2 linked regions of the Homo sapiens genome follow. The protein of the gene in region 1 purifies or fractionates together with the protein of each later gene. This does not show direct contact. Each region holds a gene or a part of one and is shown in the gene's direction. Other genes may lie near its edges.

Region 1 (3,500 bases):
TCATTCTTTCTTAATCCTGGTGTGTGGTGGAAGACACATTAACAATCTGGTTTTACTAACTGCATGGGGCTGACTCAGCTTTAACCAACTTACAGCCCATCAGTGAACTTTCACGGTCCTGTTCGACTTGACTGTATGCCGTTATTAGTTCAGCTGTGAGAAACAAGAACAAATTAGTTGCAGTGGTCCTGGGGTGGCTGGGAGTAGCATGCCAGGTGGCACGCCTGAGATGGGCTAGGGCGCTGTAGTGTTGATTTCAGAGTCTGGCGATGGGGGTTTGAGGTCACTGTCAGGCCCTGGGATCACCTTTGACTGTCTTCCTGGGACTGGGGGTCTTCCCGTTACCCAGTTGCTTCTGTTTTCTCAAGTCAGGCACCAGTGTGAGCATTCCCTCACCTCTGCGCTCACGCATGGAGTCCCCAGTTAAAATGGAATGGTACATGGGGACGTGTGTAAGATCTGCCTTACATTTCAGAACTGCTTTGCAGTTTGCAGAGCCTGGGCTGAGAACTGGAGCAGGCTGGAGCTGCTCTGAGCCCACACTCATCCACTGAAATAGGAGACTCAGGTGTGGCGTGTGCCTGCCTGCAGGCTCTTCTGGATAGCTTGAGCCCACCCTCCTGCCCTCTCCAGTGTCCTGATCCTTGCTGCTTTGACAGAGTTAATGTTTCCATCCTTCATCTCAGCTGCTTTGGATTTATTGTCCTGAGTAGCTTCTAAGTGTGCCTTGGCTCTTCCCCCTTTTCACTTCTTCCACTGACATTTTACAACTGACCTTAGCACTTTTTCTTAGCTGGATTCTCTATATTTCAGCCTCCTTAACTAGTCTGTGGTGGTAAGATCATGAAATTTTATAGCTCTGGAACCTTTTTTTTACATATATGATTCCCAGATCTGTATCTTCAAGCCTGCCCCATCACTCTTCCTTCAGTCCTGTCTTGTGCACTGGGACATTGCCCTGTGGCTCTTTGCTGCTCCCTGAAACTGAATCTGTTGAATATAGAGTCTCTTCTCTTGCAAATCTTTTCCCCATGCACAGCTTTGCAGGCCTCTGAAGGACTTCACTAGACCTGTCATCCCATCTAGAAGGCCAGCTTTCTTCTCTCTCTGTTCTTTAACTTTCTACTTTTTGAGTCAGGAGAGAGGCGCTAGGTGAGACCCTGGTGGATTGATGTTCCCTCTCTACTCCACCCACCTTCACATTAAGCGTTCCATTTCTGCCCATGTAGAAATTTACCGGTTCTCTCTTTATAGTCTGGGCTGCACCACTTACTTTTCCCATTAGAGCCGGCCTGCATTGGAGTGCCGAAGTGGTTGCTTCTGAGGGCTGCTAGGTGGCCTCTGACCAGGAGGAGACTAGAAAAGGGTCCTGGCCTGGGCATCTGGAGGCAGCTGTGGCCCCGACTTCCCCATCAGTGGCTCACTAGGTGAGCCTAGGCTAATGGCTGGACCTTCTCTTGCTTTGGTTGTCTTGGCAGTGGAACAGTGGGATGAACCTGTTGTTCCTTACGGTGCACTTGAAAATGCCAGAATCCCATCCTCAACCTGCTTGAGGAGCCATCTCCTAGTTGCTGCTTTTGTACACCCCCGTGGCCCAGGTGCCAGATTCTTCTTGGCATCCAATGGTGCTCCCTTTCTGCTGGGTTCCGGGCACTGTCTGCAGTACAGGTTTAGGGGCTTGCCTGCCACTGTGATGTGTGAGGCCAGGAATCTGAGGTTCACACGTGCTGAGAGCTGCAGGCATTTGTGGGGCCTGCCTGGTTGTCCCTGAGGTTTCTAGGAGAAGCAGGTGTCAGGGACTCTGGGACTAGCCAGACAGATGGAGCCTATTATATGAGGGCTACCGTGGCAAATAGGATATGGCCTTGGCCCCAGAAGAGGCACAGGCCTGTGACCTTGGGAGAGTGGGAAGGATGATTTCAAACTTGCAAATGTGTTGAAGCTCAAAAATCAGACCTAACCCAGTGAGGAAAGAGACAATCTGGCTGTTTGTCGTCGAAGTAGGACAGTGTGCAACAGGGAGAAATGACATTTGTCAGAGCCTTTCTCCTGGGGCTCTTGGTCTCTGTATGCGTGGTTGGAATTTAAACTCCACATATGTACTCTGAGTTTAGTTTCTTTAGACATGAACTTTGTTTCTTCCAAGTAGGCAGGGACTATTTGTCAAGTCTCTGCATGCCTGTTTGTCTGTGAGGTTATCCTCACCCCGTCAGTGTACGAAACAGCTGTCTCTGCAGGGAGTGTGTGTCGGCATTTTTTTTTTTTAAGGAGAACCTCTCTCCATGAGTCTGTATTTAGCTCCCTGGAGCCGTCTGATGAGTAGGTGGGGGCAGTAGTGGGCAGGTGTGGTGCAGTGTGGCCCCTTGTCGTAGTTGGCTTTATCTCCCAAATTGCTAGTGGGACAAATTTTCCTAGGAAGCGTTTCAAGGTGGAAAGGCTGAAGTGGCTCCTGAGAGAGGTTCCAGGCTGCACACTCCCTCCCCCTCTTGCTGCTTCCTGTGGCTGCGCTGCATGGTGCGTGAGGGGGATGCTTGGGGGGCTCCCTGCATCGCTGGGCTCTGGGTGCGTGATGGGGACGCTGGGGGGCTCCCTGTGTCGCTGGGCTCCGGGTGCTGGGTCCTGGCTGCAGGCTATTGGGTTGGGCTGGGCTGTCTGCACACGAGTCTGCGTTGAAAAGCCTACTCATCTGGCGTTGCTTGCTAAACAATTTTTAAAAGGTTATTTTTCTCCACCTTATTAAGATATTCGTGTATTAATACATTATATTTGGAAAATGTAAGGAGATTTGGAAAATGATTAAAAAAGGATAAAGTAGTAAACAAAATTCACCCACAGCCCAGAGGGAAGAAAAGTAACGATTCTTAAATTTTCTTTTTATGATATATATGATCCTATGTACATATATGTTGGTGTGTGTATATATATATGTGTATGCGTATATATAATGTATGTATATATACATTTATTTATACACACTCCCCCTCTGTCCCTGCTTTGTGGATTTAGCTGCATGGATAGTAATGTCTATCTAAGGGGCTATAGTCTAGAATCTAGAATATATACTATTTGCTTTTTTTTCTTTCATATCATTGAATCTACAGAGTTTGGTAACCTGCATCTTTTTCCACTTAGTGTTAGTTACATTCTGAATATTTTCCCATGCTATTAAAAAACTTGTGGAATGTGTTTTTAATGGCTGTGCAATATCTTATTGTTCAGTTGTACCATTATTTATTTAACTAGTTCCCTATTGCCAGGCATTTAGACCTGCTTTATGGGGAAAGAATCAGGACTGTGGCTTCCGTGGCCAGTGTGCGGCAGTTGCCAAACAGGTCATGTGGTCCTGGTTCCCCAGGATTCCCAAAGGCTCAATTCTCTAACCAGCTGGTGCTTTCCAGGCAGCCAGTGCCCCTTGGGCCATCAGGACCCTACAGCCTGCGAGGAATAGTTTTAGAAAGCAGATTAATTTCCTATTGTGTGTGAGTGATTTTAAATGAGTT
Region 2 (3,500 bases), on another chromosome or scaffold:
AGGAGTTCAAGACCAGCCTTGGCGACACAGTGAGACCCTGTATCAAAAAAAGAAAAAAATATATTTTTAGAAAATAAAAAAAAATAAGAATACAGTTTTTAGAGTCTCAGATAAATGAGTAGCTTTAAAGTTAATGTCTGAGAAAAAATTAAATTTACTAAAACACATAGATACTGATAGTATAATGGCTTTTGATTATGTAATGCCTGTTTCTGAAAAGAGTAGTTTTATAATGTTATCTTTGTGAAGAATGTTATTCATTTGATTGACAGGTATGGATTTATTTTAATGATTTACATTAATGTTGATACTTTTAGACCATGGTGGCATGTGTATGTATTCTAAGTTACTTTAAATTTAATTTGTTATCAAAAAATAAAGATTGATAGCATTGTTTATAGAATAGAAATTAGCACAACACTAGTAGAGTACAGTGATACTTTGTTAAGCTAGAGAACAAATGAATTGTGTTTTTGTTCATTTAGTGTTCAGGGCCTCTGAATCATTGCTATATAATGTATTGTCATTTTGTTTTTAATGAGAGTCTTTGTTCAGATTTAAAACTGTAAGCAAATATGCTTAGTAAATAACTTTTTAATGTGTGTGCTCTTATAATAGCTCATATTAAATTATTCATACCTAATCATTTTTCAGATTTATAACTACCTCGACAAGTATGTTGTTGGCCAGTCATTTGCTAAGAAGGTGCTTTCAGTTGCTGTGTACAATCATTATAAGAGAATATATAATAATATCCCAGCTAATCTGAGACAGCAAGCAGAGGTTGAGAAGCAGACATCATTAACACCAAGAGGTAGCGTTTTTGATAATTGACCTAAATAGAGATTGCTATGCTTAAAAGTAATCTTTATTTGTAACTCCTCACTTTCTTCTTAAAATGTTTTTTATATAGTGTGGCATTTTTCAAAGTGCAGGTTATTCCCCATTAGTGTGTTATGAAATCATTTGCCAACAGCATTTTTTAAAAATTTGATAGATATGAATAGAAAATAACAGAATACATTAACTTACAGTTAAGGTAAATATTATTTCTTAGGCCTGGCATGGTGGCTTATGCCGGTAATCCCAGCACGTTTGGAGGCCGAGGCGGGGGGATCACTTGAGGTCAGGAGTTCGAGACCTGCCTGGCCAGCATGGGAAACTCCGTCTCTACTAAAAATACAAAAATTAGCCAGGTGGGGTGGCACATGGCTGTAGTCATTATACAGTATACTGTATAATCTCAATTTACTATGGACAATAATGTATATTAATAGAATGATTTATTAAAAACAATTATGCATAGAGTAAATATGAATATTTAATTTTTTGTTTTGTTGGCCAGACAGCCCCAATTTCTGATTTAGGCCTATATTCCATCATTTTAGATTCTTTTAGTTATCACTGTACAGTGTGAAGGAGTTCTGCTAAGTACTTAAATTTATAAGTCTACATTATCTTTGATTGCCTTTAGTAGCAACTAAATGTATAATTTATTTCAATGAAGACACTTGTTCACTTGCTGAACTTACATCACATAACTGCAAAATAGGTATGTGATGGTATCAGTTATTTTTAGAAAGTATAAGTCATAACTAACGGATGACTTGGAACCTTTTTCTTTTTTTCAAGACAAGGTCTCTCTCTGTCACCCAGGCTGGATTGCGACTCACTGCAGCCTCAACTTCCCAGGCTCCAGTGATCCTCCCACCTCAGTCTCCCAAGCAATCCATCTGCCTCAGCCTCCCAAAGTGCTGGGATTAATAGGCGTGAACTCTTGCGCCTGGCCTGAAATCTTCATTTTTATAAGGTCCAAATAGCACTGATAGTTATGGAGCAAAACTTTTTTGTTTTCCTCGGTAATAAATAGATATTTAAGCTATTCTAAGTGCTGGAGGAGCAAATGGTTATAATATTTATAGCATGAGGGGCTTAAACTCTTATTAAAGACTTATGTTATTATACCCTTACAATAGATATCAATTATATATTTGACAAATGTGAATATTAGCAACTGGACAGCGGTCTTTATGCATGGTTTTGTTTTAATATAGAAAAGATATAGCATATATGAAAAGCTGAAAAATGTTAATGAACAAATCCTTTAAATATATTTGAAAGAGGACAGGAGGTGGGATACTCATTGTTTGTTCCCCCAAGGTAAACAAATATGTAATATTTTCATCCTCTTTCTTAGAGTTAGAAATAAGAAGACGGGAGGATGAGTACAGATTTACAAGTAAGTGACTTCAGGTCCTCCTCTGTAATCATTCTTCCTTTTGACATTTATTTCAGTGAAGTGTTTCAGCAGTAACAGTGATAGACATGTATGTATTTGCTTGTGTATTACCAAGAAAGATACGTATTATCTAAATGTGTTTATCCTACATGGTATATATAACTTTGGAATAGTTTTTCATAGCTAATTTGTGTCGTTTCCATATGTTGGGTTATTTTTTATTTTTTCTATCAAACTACAATTAGAGTTGGCCTGCTTCTTGTGGGTCACAGGAATTTGGGGGAGGCAGATTATTTTCTAGCTACTCTTTGCCAGAAAGCACACTGTTTTTTGGTTTTTTTTGTATTTATGAAACTTACAGTCTTACAAATTATGAGTAAGTCTTAATTCACTGTTTCCAGCCCCAGATTGCCCCTACAAGCATCAGATGGTCCGATGGAGGGTGTGGAAGGACTTGATAGACCAAGGAGAGTGGCCTTTCTGTTGTGTTCCACCTATTCCTTTGGAGGTGGATATAGTTAGTTGCTGCATTGAGGGTGGAGGTTCCAGGGGTGTCATAGAAAGATTCACATGGCCTTTTGTTTTAGTAATTGAAATAAAGAAAATTAGCTAAGTTTGATGTTTTTACATTTGCCTTTGAACCAAGTAGTATTATATATCCACTATTTGAAGTGTACTATATATAGGATGAGCCATGAGAATATAACTTGTGTACCAACTTGGGCATGACATTTATCACATGTAATAAAATTACATTATCCCCAGTTATTTTTAAATTTATAGAAATACTGATTATACCATGCGTGGTAAAATTAAGAAATACAGTAAGTGCAATAGAATTAGATTGTATATAAGAATGTAAAATCTAAATAATAACCTTTAGGTATATATGTAATTTATTTCATAATAAAAAAATATATTCAGATATGCAGTCAATACCATACTCATAAATTGTGTTGACAGCTAGTTAACCTATACTAAATTAGTAAAGAAAGTCTGTAGTGCATATTTTGAAAGACATGTCATGTAATATATGTAGTGATTTAATGTTATTTAAATGTTAACAAGTAACAGTATTTAAGAACTTATGTAAAAGATTGACTTAGAAACAAATATTTCAAAAGCTTAAATTTATTGTCATGTGCAGTTTTGTTGTGTTTTACATGGGATTTTAAGTTCTAAAGTTAGGTTGTTAACTAACACTGGCTGGGGGTGTTAGACCCTAACACTGGTCTAGGGTTTTAGACCAAAATCATGTACA

The links. Proteins that work in one complex are often made in the same cells at the same time.
Region 2: the proteins of NDEL1 (region 1) and CLPX purify together in Homo sapiens (co-immunoprecipitation; 3 studies listed by BioGRID and IntAct, with this or other methods). This does not show direct contact.

The regions. Positions count from the first base shown.
Region 1 is NC_000017.11:8,463,384-8,466,883, forward strand, and holds part of NDEL1 (nuclear distribution protein nudE-like 1), read left to right. Parts: intron 1-3,500. UniProt on the Homo sapiens protein: Required for organization of the cellular microtubule array and microtubule anchoring at the centrosome. May regulate microtubule organization at least in part by targeting the microtubule severing protein KATNA1 to the centrosome.
Region 2 is NC_000015.10:65,161,343-65,164,842, reverse strand, and holds part of CLPX (ATP-dependent clpX-like chaperone, mitochondrial precursor), read left to right. Parts: intron 1-654; coding exon 655-814; intron 815-2,197; coding exon 2,198-2,239; intron 2,240-3,500. UniProt on the Homo sapiens protein: ATP-dependent chaperone that functions as an unfoldase.